Regions from separate parts of the Homo sapiens genome. Here region 2 is linked to region 1. Evidence: fine-mapped expression QTL. Tissue or cell type: whole blood. Region 1 holds a variant in brackets; the other region holds the start of a gene. All regions are shown on one strand. Distances are from middle to middle.

Region 1 (10,454 bases):
GAACACCTTGCTCAGCTTCGAGGCTGAAGACAAGACATGTGCTGGAAGGTGTTCTAAGAGTCAGAGAGGCCCAATCCCAGCTCTACCCACTTGCCAGCTGTGTGACCTTTGGCAAGCTGCTTAACCTCTCTGAGCCGGCTGCCACTTCTGTAAAGTGGGGGTAGTAAGATAAAGCTCAAAGTGCTGGAAAGAGTTCATGAGCTCACACACACCAGTATATAGCAGTGTCTGGCACATGTGAGTGCTCAGTAAGTGGTAACCCTGGAAACTATTACTCCTGATTCAGTCAAATATTCCTCTCCAAGGGGAACAAAAGGGCATTAAAACGAAGATGGAAGAGGCAATAGAGATTCTGGGACCACATATTGCCATGCAAGCACAGAGCACAGTGTTCTCTGTAAGTGGCCGACCACCACAACATGCAAGGTATTAGGAAATCTTGGTTCTGCCCAGCAAACATGCCTCCAGCATTAAGATACCCCAGTTGTGCTTTGAGGCTTAACCTAAAACACCGCGCTGAGAGTGGAGAGCTGGATTTTAGCCTTGTCTGCCATCATGTTAGCTGTACTGACATTTGTGGACTTTCCAGTGCCCTAGAAATGCTCGAGCGTGCTTCACATTGACTCATTTGATCCCCACCATGCCCTGAGACAAGCTCAATTATTTCCCCCGTTTTATAGCTAAGAAAGCTGAGGCACAGAGAGGCTCAGGAACTTGCCCAAGATTGTAGGTGCCAGGATTCAAGCTTGGGAGATCTGGTAGCAGAGCCAAACTGAACTCTGATGCTATAAACTATTTTGCCCCAGACAATAATCCTTTTCCCTCTCTGGGCCTCAGTTTGCACATCTGTCAAAAAGGCCCCTTTGGTGGGAAGATCTAGCTCTATGGCCCCTCCCAAGTCTTAAGCTCTCTGAATATGTCCACTCTTGTGTAACTTTCCAGACTACTCTGCCCCGTCTGGCCCTCGAAACCCCACCTCCAGCATTCTGCACCCTTAGGACTCCCCTGACGCCTGTACCGTATTCATCTTTCCAGGGGTGTGTGTCCCCAGTCTATGTAGCCCTGAGCCTATCCCATCTATGGTCAGACGCTGTTCTCAGTATTGGGAGAGTTGCAAAGATCAGGATTTGGCAAACTTTTTCTGTAAAGGGCCAAATAGCAAATAGTTCAGACTTTGAGGGCCATGTGGTCTTTTTGCAACTACTCAACTCTGCCATCGTAGTAAGACAGCAGACAGGGCAACACACAGATACACGAGCGTGGCCAGGTTCCAGCAATGCTTTTCTTACAAAAGCAGGCAGTGGACAGGATCTGGCCTGTAAGCTGCAGTTTGCCAACCTCTGTCAAAGATAAACAACACAGGGTTGCTGCTCTTAAGGATACAGGGAGTACAGAGACAACAAACTGCACAGCTAATCCGAAGACGCGGCAGGACTTGCTAAGTGCATTTGCGGAGGCATGGAGCTCTGGGAAAGCCCAGAAGAGGAAAAGGCTGGTTTTGACTCCAGGCATGCAGAGGTTTCATGGACAGGCATTTGAGTTTGGCCTTGGAATGATGGGCAGAATTTCCACAAGCAGAAGGGGCAGGTGCAAGCAAGGACACGTGGAGGCAGGCTGCTGGTGCGTGCTGGCAAAGCAGCACATCCTGAGGGCGAGTGTGGTGTGAACCCAGGACCCAGACAAGAAAGATGTTGAGTGCTGGGCTTCTCTCATTCTATAAAGAAAGATGAACTACAAGATTGTTTTTTCTTCTTTTCATTCAACAAACATTTTGAGTGCCTACCATATGCTGGGCACAGCTCTAGGCATGAGGACAGATACGACATTCATAATTTGCATTTTCATTGTACTGTCAACATTTTCAAAGAGCTCTGGGAGCCACGCTTTATCTCATCCTCATAAATACAGAGATTGAATGATTTGCCAAAGTTTTATCATTAATTAATAGCAGAAGCTCCTAATTCCAGATACAAACCACTCTACTGAACAACGGACCCTCCGTCCTAGTTGCCTGGTGCTTATCTCCGCCGGGTGTCTGGAAAGTGCTCGCCCTGTTCTTCTACCCCTGCATCAGTGTGCTAGGGCTGCTGAAACAAAGTGTCCCAGACTGGGTGGCTGGAACAACAGAAATTTATTTTTCTAGAGCTAGAAGTCCAGGATTGAGGTGCTAGCAGGCTTGGTTGCTTTGAGGGCCGTAAGAAAGTGTCTGTCCCATGCCTCTCTCCTGCCTTCTGGTGGTTTGCTGGTATCTTTGGCACTCCTTGGTTTGTAGATCCACCGCCCCAGTCTCTGCCTTCACTGTCACATGGCCTTCTCCATGTATGCATGTATGTGTTCAAATATCTTTTTATAAGGACATTAGCCACTGAATTAGGGCCCACACTAATAACCTCATTTTAACCTAATTACCTCTATAAAGACCCCACTTCCAAATTAAAGTCACATTCTGAGGTACTGAAACCTACCTTTTTGGGGGAAACAATTCAGCCCCTAACACCTCCCCAGCACTTCACACCCCACCTCACATTCCACTGCTGATTGAGCTGAACCTTCACTTCCCAGGTCTCACACATCCATCCCTTTTCCCTTGCCAGTGGTGTGGTGGCCCAACCACACCAAAATAAAAAACTGCCTAGGCCAGGTGAGGCCAGATCCCATGACTCCATCCAAGACAGCCCAGTGGCCAAGGAGGTTGCACAGGGTCTCCCCCACTCCCCACTGGAAGACAGCAGGGGCAGGGTCCAGATGGTATAATCAGTGGGTACACCTGGAGGACGTGCAACAACCACGTGACCCACTGGCATTTTAGAATGTCAACTCCAGCATCAGGGATGGTAGAGAGACGATCACAGCAGGAAGACTAGTCAGGAAACAGGTACGGCGGTCAGAGGCAAGGAGAGAGAAAGGGTCCGAGCTGGGGACGCTATGGTGAGGATGGAGAGGTGGTGGCAGAGGGAATGACATGGCTGGGACTGCGGAACAGGGTGCAAGGGTGGGCAACTGAGCCAAGCGTGGAGCAGAGTGCTGAAGACAACGAGCCCACAGAAGAATCAGCCCCCAGGGGAAACGAGAGCTCTTTAGACGCGCTGAGAGTGAGGGAGCAAATCTTGGTAGATACTGAAGTCTGGAGCTCAGGAGAGAGGCAGGGGCTGGAGACCAGTTTTGAGAGTCCTGAGTGGATTAGATCACCTTGGGAAAGCAAGAGGCAGCAGGAATGGAGGCTCAGTGAAGTGCAGTCATGGGCCAAACCCTGGAAAAGACAATGTTTTAAAGAGAGCTGGGGCACAGATGTGAGAAAAAGGAGGTCCAGAAGGGTCCAAGAAGCAGGAGGAGAACCAGGAGAGAAGGGTGGTTCCTGAGACCAGGACGGTTCAGGAAGACCAACAGCACGCACTCCTTCGGGGCCCCCCTGCTGCTCTCTCTTGCTGGACTTTGCTTAATGTGAGCAAACTGTCACAAATAAGCTGATTGAGCTCCCATCAAAAGAAAACTGCAAGCATGCCTCTCTCATCTTTTAACTGTTTATTGTATAATATAAAACTACAAAAGTAAGACTGCTCATTTCCATGTACATTTAATCTGTCCAATTGTTTAGATTACAGCCCAAACCTACATGTGAATACAGCCATCTGGGTTCCGATGTAACGTCTGTAATATTGCATAGAAAAGGCACAGCTCTCAGGTCTGTGGGGGAAAGGTTATACCTCCTTTTTGACAAAAGCCCTCCTCAAAAACCATGCACCAAACATGTCACTATGTACATCTTTTTTCAAAATCTCGGTCATGCGCACATATGGCCTGCATTTCTCTTCCAAAACTTGTTATCCCCAAAAGAAGTCCAACTTTTTATTGGCTTTGTCTGCAATAGCATTTGATCCTGGCTAATTTTCAAGAACCATTCAGACTCATTCTTAGAAACACTGAAAACAATTGTACATAAGCAGGATGCACACAACTCCATGCCTCCAGGTGCGGGGCAGTTACAGGAAGGTAACCATTTACAGCCAGAAAAGGTTAAATATACTCTTTTCATTGTTTTCAGAAAATGTATAAAGGTCCAATTTGTAACAGCAAGGTTTTCAAATTAAGACAATTCGTATAGAGTAGCAATTGCTGCACGAAGTAGAGTCTTTTTTTTTTTTTTTTTTACATTTGTCATTTAAGAAGGCTGCCCTGCGGTATTCATAATTCATTGTTTACCACAAAGGTGGTTCATAAATTTAAGCTTTAAAAACGATCTGTAAGTTGATACTTTGGCTCTTTGGAGCTTATTTCATTAAGAAATTTTCCTTGATTGACCTCAGGGCAGCTGGGGCACTCCAAGGGGCTATGGCGATAAAAAGCTCAATTGGTAAAGACACTCGAGAGGTGCAGAGGAGGCTCTGGCCACTGCTCACCCTTTGGTATGAACAAGGGTGCCCATGTGGTTGCTCCTTCTGTCATCCAGAGAAAGTGCTACTAAAAAAACTTTAAAAAATATCAACCCTTTGATGCTTTTCTTAAAAATTTGGAGGTATTAAAACATTCCTCATACCTTTTGCATATTTCAAATAGACCCATATTAGAGAAGAGTAAAAATGAATGCGGACTGTGCATACAATGAGAAGACCTGGGGGCCTGGCTTGGACCCCCTTTTAATACAGATTTACATTCCTACAAGAGAATACATTCCTACCATACATTCTGCACATGTTACGATCCAGATGTTAGCGCTCCACAGTAAAATAAATATATTTACACAGAAAAAAGGAATAAATAACTTATGGGGGGAAAAAAACTCA[CTTCAAA/C]TTCAAAGCTCTTACGATTCTGCTCTCATCTTGTCACTTCATTGCACATCAGTGTCAATAACTGTCCTCTCCCAGCCCCAGCTCGGTTTTCTCGTAAAGGCACCTCAAGCTGCCTGCCTGGCCCTGGATGCCATGTGATGTCTTTCATAAAGGGAAGGCACTGCTGGAAGCACATCCCACACTCAAACTGGGACTTGGAGATCCCACTCCAGCTCCTACTGTTCCCTGTTGGGACATCACTTTGTAAGAATAGGATGCAAAAGCAATTAGAACCCTAGATCATTTTGATCTTTCTGAAAATGGGCTGCTAATTTTCCATGTCTTTCTTGTTAGACTTTGAGTATCAGGGATTTATGGCAACGGTGTCAGAGTTAAAAAGCATTTGCCTGCTGTTTTTGGGGTTTTTGTTTTGATTTTGAAGCCCAGCCTTACAAATACATAAGAGTCAGAGAACCAAGTTTGGGCAACACTTCTCCGTGCTTATTTGAACTGTTGCCCAACATATGGGATTTGTTTAAACACATGATTTGCTAATCCAACAAAAGTACAGTTGTTGTAAGTTACTGTAAATCAGTTTTTAACAATGGCAAACCAACTGTTTTACCCTGTTATTGTTCAGAATCATCAATACTATTGTATATGTGTACGTAGGTAGATGTGTGCAGCATGCGGCAGGTTTGCCAGGTCCTCCAGTTATAGAAAGCATGGAATCTGGGCAGACTTGTTCTCTGCAAGAAAGGGAAGCTCTTAAAATTAACAGGCATACTGACACTGGAAGCATCTACTACAACCCTCACCTCAGTTACATGGTCCCTGGTCCTATTAAAGGAAATGACACACCTGTAGCAGTACGAGGTGTCTGCGTGGAGGTTGCTTGTAGGAGAACAAGTGCAATTTGATCAGTTTCTCACTGCTCTACTGAGCTGATAATTAGCCTTTAAAACACATTCAAGTGGGGGGAAAAAGTAAATTAGAATGTAGAAAGCCTTTATCATATCATACTCAAATCTTTTGCTTAGATGAGCAGTTCCTTCATCACAAACGTCTTTGCTTTGCCATGTGCATTACAAAAATAAAACTAACTATGGCTTGCTTAAAGTGCCATTTTATAAAGTTGTCTTTTTTAATTAGCCAGAAAGACCCAATTTTATCCATGGCAAGAAGTGAGCAGAATTGGTGACTGAATATTGACAAATGACCAACAACAAAGACAACAACAACAACAAAACATCCCATAATTTAAAAATTTTTAAATAAATATAAAAGTTATTCCTAAAGAAGCCATCTGCATAACAATATAGGTTGTAACCTGCACTCAACAGCTAAAGTACCATTGGAAGAAAAGAAAAAACTGAAACAAGAAGGCCATAAACAGTTTCGGCAACAAGCATGATACATTGCAACCTTTTTAAAATTAAATGTACACCACTAGGAATAAAAAGCTACTTCTCAAGTGTGTCCTGGGAGATAAGGTGATGGGGGGGGGAATTGGGGGGAGGAGGGAAAACATGCATAGAAAGTCCTGTCTGAGTTTTGGGGTAAAACAGCCTTGACAAGTGTGAAGTAGCTGACTCAGGAAAGCAACCAGATGGGAAGCTGTGACGTAATGTGATGAACTCCAGGTTCAAGAGTCACACATGTTGTAAGAGTGCATCCCGGGCCGGCCGAGGCGAGCCAAGCTCACTGTGGTGATCACGAAGATGCCATTTTCAGCTCTTAGCAACACAGGGAAAGCTCTAGGGAAAGGAAGCTGCAGAAGACAATTAAGCAACATGATGGATGCCTTCTGGGGAGATTTTCTTCTTTAAGGGCCCTAAGCATTGCAACAGGGCTGAGTTCCATGAAGAAGTTGGTTGCTTTTCGGATGTAAAATTTTGTTCGGATGTAAAATTTCAGGTCATCATAAAAATTATGCCAAAAAGGAAAGATCTGGGTTTTCATTAAAAAACAAAATAAAAACAATTAAAAGCGCAAACTTGGCATAAATACACTCTTAAGAAAGACAGTAGCTTTACCCTCAAAAGAGGGAGCAAAAGAGAACCATCACTTAAACCCCCAGCTCCACAGCCATCTCCCGCCAACTGCTTAATGCAAGTTTGATGAGCACATGTGGCTCTGGCTTTGGAAGTCACAGTACTGGCGGGTGTTGGTGCCAGGGGGTCAGTGCTTGTGAAATTTGGGTGTGATATCACCTGGCCCTTTCTTAAAGCACTGTGTGTGTGTTTATGGGTGTGTGCATGTGTGTGCCTGTGTTTGCATTTGGGGACATCAACTGCAGATTGATTTGATCCAATTTTCTCTTGCACCATACACATATAAAACATTACAACTCTATAAAAGTACAAGTGCAACTTGTACATCTGAAGTTTGCAGGAACTATGTGAGCAAATCCTATCAAAATAGCTATCTCATATGTATAAACAGCATTTGTTTTTAGAAAAACAATATCATAAACTGCAGAATCTGTACAAAAATATAAAATAAATTTGGGCAGCAGTTTTCTAAACAGCCATGTAAATGCAACACTTACGAGGAGTAGTTAATGCCTCTAAAAAGGCCGAATTGCCAAGTCAACCTATACAGGGCAAAAATGCCAGAAAAGGTACTGAGATTATCTAAATAAGATATATATATATAGTTTTCTTCTTTACCTCTTGCAATAAAACTTATAGAAAAAATAGACAAATATGCACATGCAATTTACAGCTTTTCCAACTTAATCCTTGTGCTTCACTTGAACTGTTTATTTTTGTCATTCAACATTGCAACATTGTCTTCAAATGGATTCTTTCCTATACCAGGGTAGTAGGTCTCTGAGGAACCACTCAAAAAAGTGTATTAAAAGTGGTCATACTTGGATGAAGGCACTCCAACTCTGCTCAAAGCAAAAACTAGTGTGATCCTGTTGTAAAATTTTCTTTTTCTCTGAAAAAGGCAAGCAAGGGTGCATGCACAGTGTGGAGAACTGTCAGGGTTATGGGAACGCTCTGGGGTCTGGGTGGGCATAGTCGCTGGGTCCCTGGGTCTTAGGACCCAACAAGCACCTCCATGATGTGGTCCAGCTCTGTGAGGTCCATTTTGAAAGGCTGACTTGGGGTGACAGGCTGACTGCTGTAAGGAGCCAGAGTTTTGAGGAGGTCGTCGGCAGACACAGGGGCCATTTTTGAGGCTGTCCCTGATGAGGAAGTGCAGGGGTCAAAATCATACATGGACGTATCAATGTCAGCAAACAGGATGTCATCCAGGGTCAAGTCTGTCAGGAAACCCGTGGACGTCGTTATTTCAAAATTCCCAGGCAGAGAGTCCATCAGTTTTGAGTCATCTGCGCGGCTCTCTTGAGGACCGTCGAGTTTCTGGGTGCCAGCCTCGCTGGAGGTCCCTTTCACACTGTCAGTCGCAGCCGTGGCCGCCTCTGTGGAGGTAGATGTGGGACAGAGCTCCTCGATCTCGTCCAAGGCAGAGGAGAAACTGTCCTTTTCTGGCAAGAGGGCTGGAGGTGACAGTTTGGTGGGAGCCGTGGGCTGCATGGCCTGGGAGGTGCAAAACGTGTCATCGTCGTCCTCGAGCAGTGAGGCCGGGGTGAGGCAGGCCTCCAGGGGCGTAGTGCTTCCGAGGTCGCAGGGGTGGGAGGACGGGGACGCCAGGTGGCTGAAGGCCGGCGGGGCCTCTCGGTAGCTGTCGCTGGGCTCGGTGGTGGGCTGGGAGGAGGGGGTGAACATGGGCCTCAGGCTGCCTTCCTGTTTGAGTTCCTCCTGGATCCGCCTCAACATGTTGTTAATTAAAACGGTCTTTTGCAAGCTGGGCTCTGTCAGGGGCCTGTGGTTATAGAGTTTCATAAGGGAAATGTTGAAGATAGTCTGGCGCTGTAAGGTGTAAGACACCTTGGATGGACCGTCACAGGGAGACACGATTTTGCCTTCCAGCCCATCTTCATGCTCATCAAACTTCCGTTTTCCTCCTTTACCCAACATATATCTGCAGAGGGGAGAGAGAGGAAATGGCATTAATCACATGAAAGCTGATTTCTCCCATAAAAAAAGAGACTGATTTAGAGGGCAGGACTTGGACCTCAGTTTCCTGCCCAGGGTTATTTACAAGTACACGTGGATTAATTAGGGGTGGGAGGAAGGAAGACCTTTTACAATAAGAGAGAGTTAGAAAATCCACCTTTGTATGCCTGTGGAGCAATTTTTATCACTAGGTAGTCTGGTGAGTGTATTTCTTGAGAAATGTGTACGACACAGACAAGTTAAGAATTACCATGGAAACCATGATTTTGACTTTCTCAGCTCATGTGCTTGTGTTCGCATGCCTAAGATTATCATGCAGGTTCGATTTCCCTCCCCCACGTAGATTTATTTTTAAAGCCCAAGAAAACACTTACAATGCTATGACCTAAACAGATACAGGTGTCATAGATTACAGCTTGAGCACTTCTTAAAGGATTAAAAGAACCAAGTTAAAGAAAGGTAACATGTATAATTTGGGTAGAACTGTGTGTGCTTTCAAAATGCTTTTCCTTCCTCATTAAGCACGGAGTCTTTCTGCCTGGTTGGGGACATGTGGTGAAGCACTGCACCTGTGTTAAATGACCACAGTGACTGAGCCGCCGCCACTTTTCATTTAGAATCAAGGGGAGGAATGCGTATGTCCCAGCCTAAGTTCTTCCTTGGCTCAACTTCATCCACACACAGTTATGTTTGAAGACAACTGGATTAATTTTGAAGTAATTAGCTCTGATTATAAGCATTGCTGTTTGGGTACTCGAGACATTTCCTAACAAACTACCTCCTGTGATTCCAGAGATACATGCATATTTTGAGGAAACCATGACCTCATATCTCAGACCCTGAGAATCTGGTAATGGGTTGAATTTTAAAACTGCAGCCAGGAACTCCTGCCCCATCTTGCCTGCTGCTCACAGGCCAGGCTGTGTCCTCTCTTGCTCTGGCCTTAGTGAATACATTTTATCAACTGGTTGTCACCTTCTGGGGAGTGGGCCTTCCAACTTTCCAAGATCATGTGACATCGTCACAACCTCCTTTCAGAACTTCTACTGTCTAAACAGAACAATCTCAAGTTCATTAGCCTTTGCCTCAAAGATCTCACTTTCTAACCATTTAACAAGAAACCTGTCTTTTGGTGTTCGGACCAGGATCGTGGTTCGAATGAAGCCAGGCCCATGCTTGCTCCCTCACCGTCCCCGCCTCCAGCTACAGCACTCTCAGGGACTCCTGCTAATCCTGTCCTCAGTGTGACTCACTCTCATGTCTTCATATACAGGCAACTGCTTTGTAGTTATTCAATTTCTCTTCTAAATGCCACTTACCTTTTAATGAACTGCTTCAGCTGATTGATCACACCTCATTCAATCCTTTAATAACTTATCCACATCTACACTGTCATAGGCATTTGGCCAGGCCCAGTGGGGAGTCCCACATGAACACCCTGGCCTTCAAGAGGCTAAATAGCCCCTCCTACACCTGATCACCATTTTGAATTTCAAGTCTCGACCTAAAGAAATAAGGCTAAATGGAATATAAACTTCACAGAACTTCTTTCTCATACTTTGTCACAAAGCAGGCCATGCTGCCCTCAAGGCCAGTATACAGGTAGACATGGAGCCTGCCACTTGGGGTAACCGTCTTACCTCATGTCTCATGAGGT
Region 2 (10,454 bases), 22 kb after region 1:
AGGTTTTTGTAAAGTGACAAAAAAGATAGTAAGGCAGACATGAATGAGTTTTAAGAACTGAAGTTTGCTGCTACCTGGAGTTACTAGAGAAACAAAGCTGCCTTTGGGCACCTCAAACTAGTCAGACCTGCTATAGCAGTTGCACAGTCAGCTCCAGATCTGTCCTCTGCTCTTCTCCCTCCAGCCCCCACCCCACGCCTCCGCATAGCTCAGTCCACTCTCTACTCAGGGTGGAGGTGGGCCGGGCACACTCACCCCTTGATCTGCTGTCCCTGTGGGGAGGCAGGGCCAGCTCTGGCCAGACAGTGTGCAAGTGTAAGAATAGGCCGGCCAGGAGCACAGATGCCAACTCCATTCTGAGCTGAAAACTGCAATGGGTGCGGAATACAGCTTAGGTGATCTTGGGTTTCCAAAATAGATCAATCAAATTGTGGGGTTTACTTCAGAGAATCCTAGCATTAAGTTCAGATGAGGGACAGAGGATTCTGAGAAAAGACAAATGGGTCTTTCCAGCTTTGGGATCCCTCAGACCACAAAGAGGGCAGAATTTTCAAAAGAGAGTTTGCGCTGTCTATATGTGGTGCTTGTTCAAACTGGCAGTATCTGTTCTGTCCTATTAGAAATCATATATTATAAAATATATTGTGATATTTTACTTTAAAATTTTCATTTGTATTTCAAAGAAAATTTTTAGACAGCCAATCATGTTTTGTTTGTCTCGTGATCTCCGAGAAAAAAAAAACAAAACAAGGAGTCTATTTATTACTCAGAATAGGAATGTCGTCTTATTGGGCTGACATATGCCATTCACAGATTCATACAAAGAATGAACTGCCACACAGTGCTAATGGAGAAAGACACTGCTCCACACAATGAGTGACGGACGCTCCAGGGGACAGTTCTGTTCATAAGGGTTTCCCAGCATCTGCACACAGGGCATAAGTTTGCCTTTAATATCAACTGCACTGGCCATTTGAGACAATCATTTTTTCTAGATTAGTAGCCATTTCCTTCAAACATACTAAAACTAAATGAAATAGCCACACATTTCTTAAACAGGAGTCCTGGCTTGTGGCTTTCTACCAATTGCTTAATGAGTAATTATTAACAATATGTACAAAATATATGAGTTGTGCATATAAAGTGGCCATGGCACTTTTAGATTTTCATGTTTTGCTAGTCAGTATTAATTAACAGAAAGACCTATGAGAGCTGGTGTCACCCTTATTGTGAGGCCATTTTCATGTCAACTGGAGCTTGCCTTCTGGTGCCTTCAGTACACAACTGATCTTTGGACTCAGTAATCAGAGACGGCGCCTGCGCTTGCTCTCTCTCTCACGCACCAAGTAACTATTGCAACTAGAGCTATCTCCTATAGGATATGCCATGACAGTGAATACAAAATTTCTGTTGCCAAGAAGCTTTAAAAATTCTATGAGTGAATTAAAGTTCATGGCCCCAAATACGCCTATCTATATATAGCTTTTTCCACAGGTAATATTGACAAAGTGGTCTTGATTCTGTTGATATATGTGAAATATAAAATAAAGCTTCATACTTTTTTTTCTGTGCTTTTTAACAAGAAACCACAGCAAAAGAAACCTCTCAAAGTTTCTGTTCCAGCTTTCACCTTTCTTAGTTACTAAAATGTAAAATATTTTGTCTGAGGGTAAACTTGTAGTATAATTGGACACTGATAATAAAAGTAGCATGCTGCAAGTTGATAGAAATTTTTATGTATTTGCATTCGAACATCTTCAAACTGCCTTCATACGTTTTGTAATGTTTTTTGTGTGTGATGCATGTGTGTGCCTTTCTAAAGTAGTGTTGTAACTTACTCTGCCATTGGAACCCTGTTTAAAATAGCAGATACCATAAGCTATCAGTCGCCACACAAATTTGAATGAGTTTTAAAATATCAAAATATGTGCTATTTTACTAGGCTCATTATCAGTAATAATTCAGTGTGTAGCAACTGGGCAAAATTCATATTTTAGCTTCTCAATTAAATAGAAAAGCTTTAAAGAGGGACAATTCAGCAAACAGAAGTGTAAAGATTTTCTAAATCTGAATTAATATCCTTCTCTTAGTTCTTCAAGGGAAACAAGCTTGAGCAGCTGTTACCTAAGACGCTGTGACATTCGCCTGACAATAAAACCGTTCCCTAGGACACCTCCTGTCACACATACACTTGGTTGGCTTTACAAAATGTGAGTCCTCTCCCTTACCTGTCTGAATGAAGTAAGGAAAAGGGCCGGGTGTTAAGGAAAAAGGGGGTTGGGGGATGTCAAATCCAAAATAAGATTTCTCATCTGAGAACAACATGGTTATGTATATTTTAATTAGGGGGTGAAACAAGTAAAAAAAAAAAACTGTTAAAGGATTCCAAACTTAATGAACGACATAAACAATTTTATATTAACATATAATACCCCTCTAAAGAAGTCAATGAAGCTAAAGGAAAACTTTTAAACATTTGTCTCTTTTAAATAAAAAGAAAAAAAACCCTGAAAAAATAAACAGAAAAGCAGAGATCCACAAACAAACTATTCTTGTTCACTCCAGAAGTTGGGATCTTAGGATGGATATTTTCATCTTCACAGCACACCCTAGCACACTCATATCAGAATAGACTGCTATAAAAAGGGGGAGGGATGGGAGCTGCCAGGGTGAGACATGCCTTCTGCTGAGCTGAGCAACTACCCCCAACCCCCATCGGCCAAGCAGCCCAGACGCTCTCAGGTGGACGGTCCTTCAGGGGCGGAGCGAAGCCCAAAGCCCACTTCACTCTTGTCAGGGACTAGTCTCTAACTACAAAAAGCTACTGTGAACACTTAGGGCCTCAGGAATCCTGGTGACTACAACTTCTAGCCTCTTTACACACATTATGGATATTTCTTAACATACATTGGGAAATCAAAAAGCGTATTTCATGAACAAAGCTTGAAAACATGTACTCTCTACCCTAAGCCCAACTGAGGCTGCCCAATTCGATTCAAATAAAAACTGCTGTGGTCTGAGGCTGGCTGTCTCACTCTGCTGACTGTCCTCCCCATTCAGTGTCTGTGAAAACTTACTTTCTACCTCCTGAAACGACTCGGCTTGCAAGCAAAAAGTTATTCCAATGCAAACTATACCTGATATTTTCGTGAAACTTAGAAACTAAACCTAAAACTCGACTCCCATCGCAATCTATTACTACCACTTCTGCTAAAGGTAACTTATAGCCAAGAAAACAAAACAAAATACGATTTTCTGTCCATGTAGTGGCCCTGTGACGACACCCCCTCTCTTACTGGTACAAAGTCTAGGGCTTGGGACAGCTGGCTCCCCTCAGCCCCCTCCCTTTCAGTCATAGGCGGTTACCACGAAGATGACTTGTAGATTTCTAACTTAAAAACCAACGAGACGTTAAGTTTAATATACATGTAGATCCCAAATCAATTCATTTGGGCATGGACGAAAGAAAAGAGGGTGGAGAGGAAGGTTTTCAACATTATTAAAAAAAACACCGGGAAATTCACAAAAACGCACTACAGTAAGTTGGATGCAAACCCGGCCACGGAACTCAAAAGTGAAGCAGCCTTCGCGCCAGCAATCCGAGCCTTAAAAAAAGTCTCGCACGTTCACAACAACACAACCGCCACAACGCGCACACACATCCCAGCTGTAGAGGCGACAGCTCCAGGCGCCCCCGCCCGCCGCTCGGCTCTCCGAGCTCCCGACCCCCTCCTGACCCCGGCCCTGCCCCCCAGCGGCTCAGCCCGCAGGCGCCGGGGGTCCGAGAGCGCGGGGCCCGGACCGGGGCCGCGGGAGGGAGCGCTCCTCCCGTACCTGCTCCGTCCCCGGCTCCCTCCCGCGGCGGCGCCCGGCCCCTCCTCCGCCCTCCGGGCTCTCCCAGCCCTGGCCGAGTCCCAACACCGGCCCCCCATCCACCCGGAGCCCCCCGCGCCCGCGGATCCCCTCCAGCCCGACGCCGGGAGAACTTACCACATGCAGCTCCACCTGGGAACTAACGCATCAGGAGGGGTTTCCGCCCACTCCTCAGCTACTCCCGCTCCATGCGGAGTGCCCCGCTCCAGGGGCCCGAGGGTGGCGCCGGGGAGCGGGCAGCAGGCGAGGCTGAAGCTAAGACTCCGCCGTTCTCTGCCTGCGCGCCCCGAGCATTATACAATGGTGGAGGCGGCGGCGGCAGGCAGCGGAGGAGGAAGCAGGAGGCGGGCGGAGGGGGCGCCCTGACCGAGCGAGCGGTACGTCGTGCTCCAGCACTCGCCGTGCAGGAGTGACGTGCGGCCCGCGAGCCTCCCGCGAGCTCCGGGCCCCGGCGCCGCAGGCCCCGCCCCTGGCCGCCCGACCCCGCCCCCGCCGGCCCCGCCCCGGCCCGCCTCTCCCCGGCGGTCCCGGGAGGCGCGATAAAGGCCGGGGCCGGCCGCGGCCGGCCGCGGCCGCAGGAGGAGCAGGAAGGGGCGGCGGGGCGCAGTGGGCGCCTGGTGGCAGCGCCGCCCCCAGCTCCCTGCCGGGCCGGCGCGCCCCTGATTTTCTCGTAAGGACGGGCTGAAAGAGGAGGGGAGACAGAAGGAGACACTCCGGCCCGAGGACCACCACTGCCACTAGTAACGCCCCCTACACACTCTAGAAGTGCTCAGGCGAATGACGAAGCGGCTGGTGACAAAGGCGGCGGCGAGTGCAGCGCGTGCACAGCCCGCGGAGCCGCGCGACCGCAAATATGACAAGCATTTGAGCTATTTGGCAACGTGGGGCCGGTCAGCGGGGCGGGCAGGGTCCCCGCGGGGGGCGAGGGGCAGAGAGCTGGCCCGGGCGCCCGTCTCGCTGCCTGCAGGGGTTCCTGGGCGGGGGTCCGCTGCGGGACACTCCTCCGAGGCCCGCACTGGTCCGAACGGCAGGATGGGGGCTCCAGCCGTGAGCCGGGGACAGAAAAAGTCCCTTGCCCGCGTGGCCTCAGCCCGACACGAGAAGTGGGTCACCAAGTCCACGGCACTTTGGGAGCCGGACCGAACGAGTTGCATCCTTCGGGGCCGGCCGGGGCTCGGTGCAGACCCGGCAGGAGGGAAGCCAAGCTAGGAGACGCAGCCAGGTCGGAGGCGCAGTCCTCTGCCCACAAGTTTCACATTGATAGCCTTTCCCTCCCGTGGAGTAAGCTTATGCTTGGAACTACTTAAATTTACCAGGGAAATTTATACTAGTTGGAAGAGAATGTGTGTATGCCCAAATGGTGAGAATTTAAGAGCACTAGGGAAAGAGGCCAGATAGATGGTTCCACTGGAAAATTAATGATTATTTTAAAAATTACACGTGCATTCAGCGTCAAGATGTAAAAGGCAATGCAGGCAGGCACCTTAAAATTTTGGCTGCCACCCCAATCAATATCATTTCAGATCACTTTGGAGTTTAATGGTCCACTATACTAGTTGTATTTAAGAATAATAAAGCTTTAAGACCTAACATAAAGGCGATTGTAAGTCGTTAACATCAAGAGAAATTTAGACTTGTTTAAACTGTTCTGTAATGATTTGTTATCAATCAAATTGATGATCTCATCGAAATTAAACTTGTGCTGAAATGTTGATAGAGGAGACAACGCTTCTTGTTTTATCTTTAAGGAGGATGGAAAAGGTTTTTACTGGACCCTCAGTATAATTAAAGTCTTATACAGTATAACCTAAGCCAAAAGCTAATTATTTGTGGATATCTTTGCAAAGTCTCATTATAATGGCATTCAAAATGACATATTATGGAAGCTGTGCTCACCGGCCCTCTGCAGGTCTTGCTCAGTTTGCGCCTGAGTGGCATAACATTCAAACATTTTGCTGTGAAGCGAAGATATTTTTCATTTCCAGAGTTCTGCAGTTTAGAGAGGGCATTAACTACTAACAGTTTCCTAACCACCCACTCACTTATACTTTCAGTGCTCACTTTAAGGAAAAGCCATTGAAATAGAAGCTGCAATAATCTCTTCCTGTGATATCTTTGTAGAGGAGGCCAGAGGCATTAGCTCTGTTGAATTTAAGGTGAATTTAAACTGCTATTTGTGAATTTAAACTGCTATTCTTGAATTAAAGTAAGCAGGAAGTTACACTTGCAGAACTTTTGTGACACTTGGATATTTTCTAGCAAATAGATTACACCAAATGCAGTGTTTCTGTATAAAATAACAGGATTTAAGTCAAAGTGACAATTTTGTGTCACTAGGATAGACAGGATTCTGCTGAAGTCCATAAGGTCTGTATTCTGTACCTGCTCAAACAAAGGTTTGCGCTCTTAACGAGACCAGCAACCTGCGTTTTTGGAGTGAAATAGTTTCCATCTCTTTATACCTCTGAAGGCTGTAACATCTTATCAATGTACACATTACAAATAGCTCCCACTTCCCCCACTTTTAGAATCTGGCATCTTTGACCAAGAAGTTAAAGTGAGCTGGCAGTTTCAACAGCTGCCAATGTGGTTAACACCAGCTGGTTAACCCTCTCCCTCCCCTTATGCAACCCCCTACCCCAAGGCTGAGCCACACATAGGCCAGGACAGCAATCTCTACCCAGCCCTAGAAATTCAAGTCTATGAGGATAAGGAAAGGCACTTTCCACACTTCTGAAGTCAGCTCCCTTCAGTATGCAATGACATGATTTGAAATATTTATTCAATAAAATATTATTTCAAATCATGTCATTGAATAAGCAGTGTTTAGTGAATATGTAAATTTTGTTCTCACTCTTTGGGAGATTTAAAAGCCCATTTAAGGGCTGGGTGCAGTGGCTCACACCTGTAATCCCAGCAATTTGGGAGGCCTAGATAGAAGGATCACTTGAGGCCAGGAGTTGACCATTCTGGCCAACATAGCGACACCCCCATCGCCACAAAAAATGAAAAAATCAGCCCTGCATGGTGATGCATGCCTATAGTCTTAGCTACTAAGGAGGCTGAGATGGGAGGATTGTTTGAGCCCAGGAGTTCAAGGTTGCAGTGAGCAATGACCACACCACTGCATTCCAATGTAGGTGAGATCTTGTCTCAAAACAAAATCCCATTTAAAATAATCCTACTCTGAGGGCCTCATCCAGAATTTAGAAGATCTGCCTCTCACTTTCATATAACATAACTTTAGAACAGTTATAAGAAATTAGGCTAGTCATCCACATTTAACTACCAGGAACATATCTGTTTAGGGAGAAAAGAAACATTTCTTTTATAAGTATAGAACTGTGATGGTAAATTTTAAAAATGCTCCTGAGTTTAATTTCAGAGAAGTACTTCTCGGCATCATTTTGTAGTTCTGGGTACTAGTTTACACTTCACTGCTTCTCCTTTGAAAGTTTCTGTGCCCTCACATCTTATAGACTAGTACACTAGTGCACTAACTGAAGGCCACTTTTGGCACTTAATTAGCACACACCAAAAACACAAGGGGCAAACTGGGTATATAAACTGAGAAACAAAGACTTTACAACAGGTTTTGAACTTAATTTCATTTTTCCTTTGCTTTTATTAAATTTTTATCTTTCAGGTTCCACCTGAAATGCCAGTAATGATCATCCATCTATATACCTTGCAAATATTGGTCTTGGTTTTATGGCAAAAAAGATAAATGTTTCAGTTATTAAATGAATTGTATAGAGCCAGCTAGGCTAAATAAGCTTTTCATGGAAAATACGGAGATCCTAACTGTGGACTCATCATTCGGATAAATGAATATTGGAATAAGTCTTCAAAATAAAGTTCTGGAAGTCACATCACCTAACTGATTAGCAAGGAGTCAATAGAGGATACAATGATTTGGAAAAGTAAATACTCTCGCAAAGATGGCACAGGCAGATTCAGTCCTTTTCAGCCACTAACAATTTAAAACAATTCTATTGAAGCAGCAAGTGAACTCCTCTACTTCTGCAAACTTTTCTCCATCTCTTCTTCCACCTGCTTTTGTCATGGTTTTTTTCTGCTCCTCCCTGAAGTCACAATTCATAAAAGCAGAACTACAGCTCCAGTGAAGGCCCCTTTGCAAAGCTTTCCATGTTGTTACATTGAACTGCTTTGCAACGACTGCTTCTTACCTTCTGAGGGAGGTTTCACTTGTCTGTTAAAGATATACCTTTTTCTCTTTTAAAAATCTGACAATATGTAAATCTAAACCTGAAACACAATCTTCATGGCAATATTTAAAGAAAATGCTTTTAAAACCATTTCCTTTTTTTCTAGCACTTGGGGTCAGTCCCTTCGAACTATTACTGGAGAAGATGGCTTCTGTTAGGCATCAGCTTCCTTCCTATTCCATTTTCCACTGAATCTTCAAAAGCCTTGTGCAGTCTATCAAAATGCAAAGAACCTTCTTGGTGACTCTGACAACTCCAGGGTTCCCTCCTGTAGGGACACTACTCCACTAAGACTGGTGGTCACTTCTCAGAAACATCTCCCATCCCCAGCTCCCTACACAACACACATTGCCTCTACGCATCGACTATGTATTTATTCCTGTCTATAAGCCATCCATCATTCTTGAGAAGTTCCCACTCTTCTCAAGGCACTGAGCACACTTCTAGCTTCCACAGAAAATTTCAATGAATGTTAGAAATTGCACAGACCTTTCTTGCCCCCAGGAACCAGCCTGGTGACAGGAAAAGTCCTGGACTAGGAGTTTGAAGATCTTGTACACATTAATTACTTAACCATGATAAATCTATGACTTTTTAGTTTCTTAATTGACTGGTCACGGATTTAGGATCAGCACCAGTTCTCGTCAAAAGAGCACAGGGTTGTTGAGTTAGGTGATTTCAGGGCTAGCTCGTCAGCCACAGCGAGCAGGGAGGCCGAATCAGACCCTCTGCACTGGGCCTGCTTCGACACCTGGCAAAAAAAGGAACTTGGACTCAAAGATTTCAAGAGCCCCTCCCTAGAGCTAAGAGTCTATGAAACAGTGATTACACTGTCAATATCCTCATGGAGGAGTTTTAGGGCTAAAATGAGATAAAATGCTTTGGAAGCTGCTCAGCTTGTCTGGAAGAATATAAAACCAAGTTCATGTCCACATATTTCTAAATGAAAGGACTAGAAATACAAATAATGATAATGTGCTCTCTTCAATATGTTCTTTGAATTATTTTTTTAAGTCCAGAAGATGGACTTGAGCAGTTCTATCCATATTCTTCTAGATTTGTTACCCCTTAGGGTTCAAGTCACCCAGCTGTGAGACTGGGAATACCCCTACCCCCTAAGTTTGTATAGCAGCAGGCAATTTACAAGGGGCTTTTTTTTTTTTTTTTTTTTGAGACGTAGTCTTGCTCTTTGTTGCCCAGGCTGGAGTGCAATGGCACAATCTCGACTCACTGCAACCTCCGGCATCCTGGGTTCAAGTGATTCTCCTGCCTCAGCCTCCCAAGTAGCTGGGATTACAGGCATGCACCACCACACCTGGTTAATTTTGTATTTTTAGTAGAGACGGGGTTGCTCCATGTTGGTCAGGCTGGTCTCGAACTCCCATCTTCAGGTGATCTGCCCATCTCGGCCTCCCAAAGTGCTGGGATTACAGGCGTGAGCCACCGCGCCCGGCCACAAGGTGCTTTCATATGGATCCACTTGTTTGCTCTTCATAATACCTTCCCTGTGCCATAGGCAGGGCAGGTACTACTACCCACATTTCATAGAGGACTAAACAGAGGATCTGAGAAGGACCTACCAATGGAACTCTTTATCAAGCTGACTCCAGGGTCAAAGAAAGTCTGGATCTAACATTCACTGAAGCATTCTGTGGAAGCCAGGAGTGCTGAGCGTCTTGAGAAGAGCATACACTCCTCAGAAACAGCAGATGGTGCAGAGCCAGGAAATACAGAGTCAACGTGCAGAGACTAACAGGAGGGTAGTGCTGGGCTAGGAACTGGATGCTGCTTAGCTCCATCTCTCTACATGGGTCATGGAATAACAATTCTGTTTCTTATACAAAAAACTCCAATCCTGCCTATGCTTAGCCTTGTTAGCACCATATTTTATCCCACAGAATTAATAATCCACAACCACCACAACAAAAAAGAAATAAAACTCATCATATCCTCTAGCCCCTCACTCATTTCCAGTAAGGTTCATAACACAGTCATTCTTGTTTACCACCCTGTCTCTAGCCTCTACAGCACTGCCTGACACAGTAGGCATTCAATAGGGATCACTCAATAAGTGGACCAATGAGGAATGCTGAAGCACTTACACCAGCTTCAAAAACTCAAGAGGTTAATCTTTCCTGCTAAAATTTCTCTCATGAAGTATGTACTGTTAAGAGTTAATTTTAACAGGATCATTACACGGGGAACAACCTTGCAGATAAACACCAAATTATTGCCAGAATCTCACCATTCTGTACTTTTTAATGAAGATTCTTCTCTGCCTACTTACTTTAAGAATGAAAAGTATCAGTCAAATAACATTTTAAAACACAGCAGCATTTGATTTTTAGGTTA

The links. PIP is the estimated chance that this variant, and not a neighbour inherited with it, causes the effect.
Region 2: SERTAD2 starts here. The variant in region 1 is fine-mapped to the expression of SERTAD2 in whole blood (INTERVAL, PIP above 0.99).

The regions. Positions count from the first base shown.
Region 1 is chr2:64,628,114-64,638,567 of GRCh38, forward strand. It overlaps SERTAD2 (SERTA domain containing 2), which reads right to left. Exons shown (of 2, transcript NM_014755.3): 2 at 3,508-8,762. The coding sequence starts at 8,758. The coding sequence ends at 7,814. It overlaps SERTAD2-AS1 (SERTAD2 antisense RNA 1), which reads left to right and starts at 8,811. Exons shown (of 2, transcript XR_940172.3): 1 at 8,811-10,454. The variant CTTCAAA/C (reference allele first, on the strand shown) is at 4,782.
Region 2 is chr2:64,649,630-64,660,083 of GRCh38, forward strand. It overlaps SERTAD2 (SERTA domain containing 2), which reads right to left and starts at 4,284. Exons shown (of 2, transcript NM_014755.3): 1 at 3,991-4,284. It overlaps LOC124907776, which reads left to right and starts at 4,442. Exons shown (of 1, transcript XM_047446580.1): 1 at 4,442-5,594. The coding sequence starts at 4,651. The coding sequence ends at 5,082. RefSeq lists silencers at 3,248-3,327, 3,628-3,957, 4,066-4,360, 4,098-4,917, 9,846-9,895 and an enhancer at 5,699-5,858.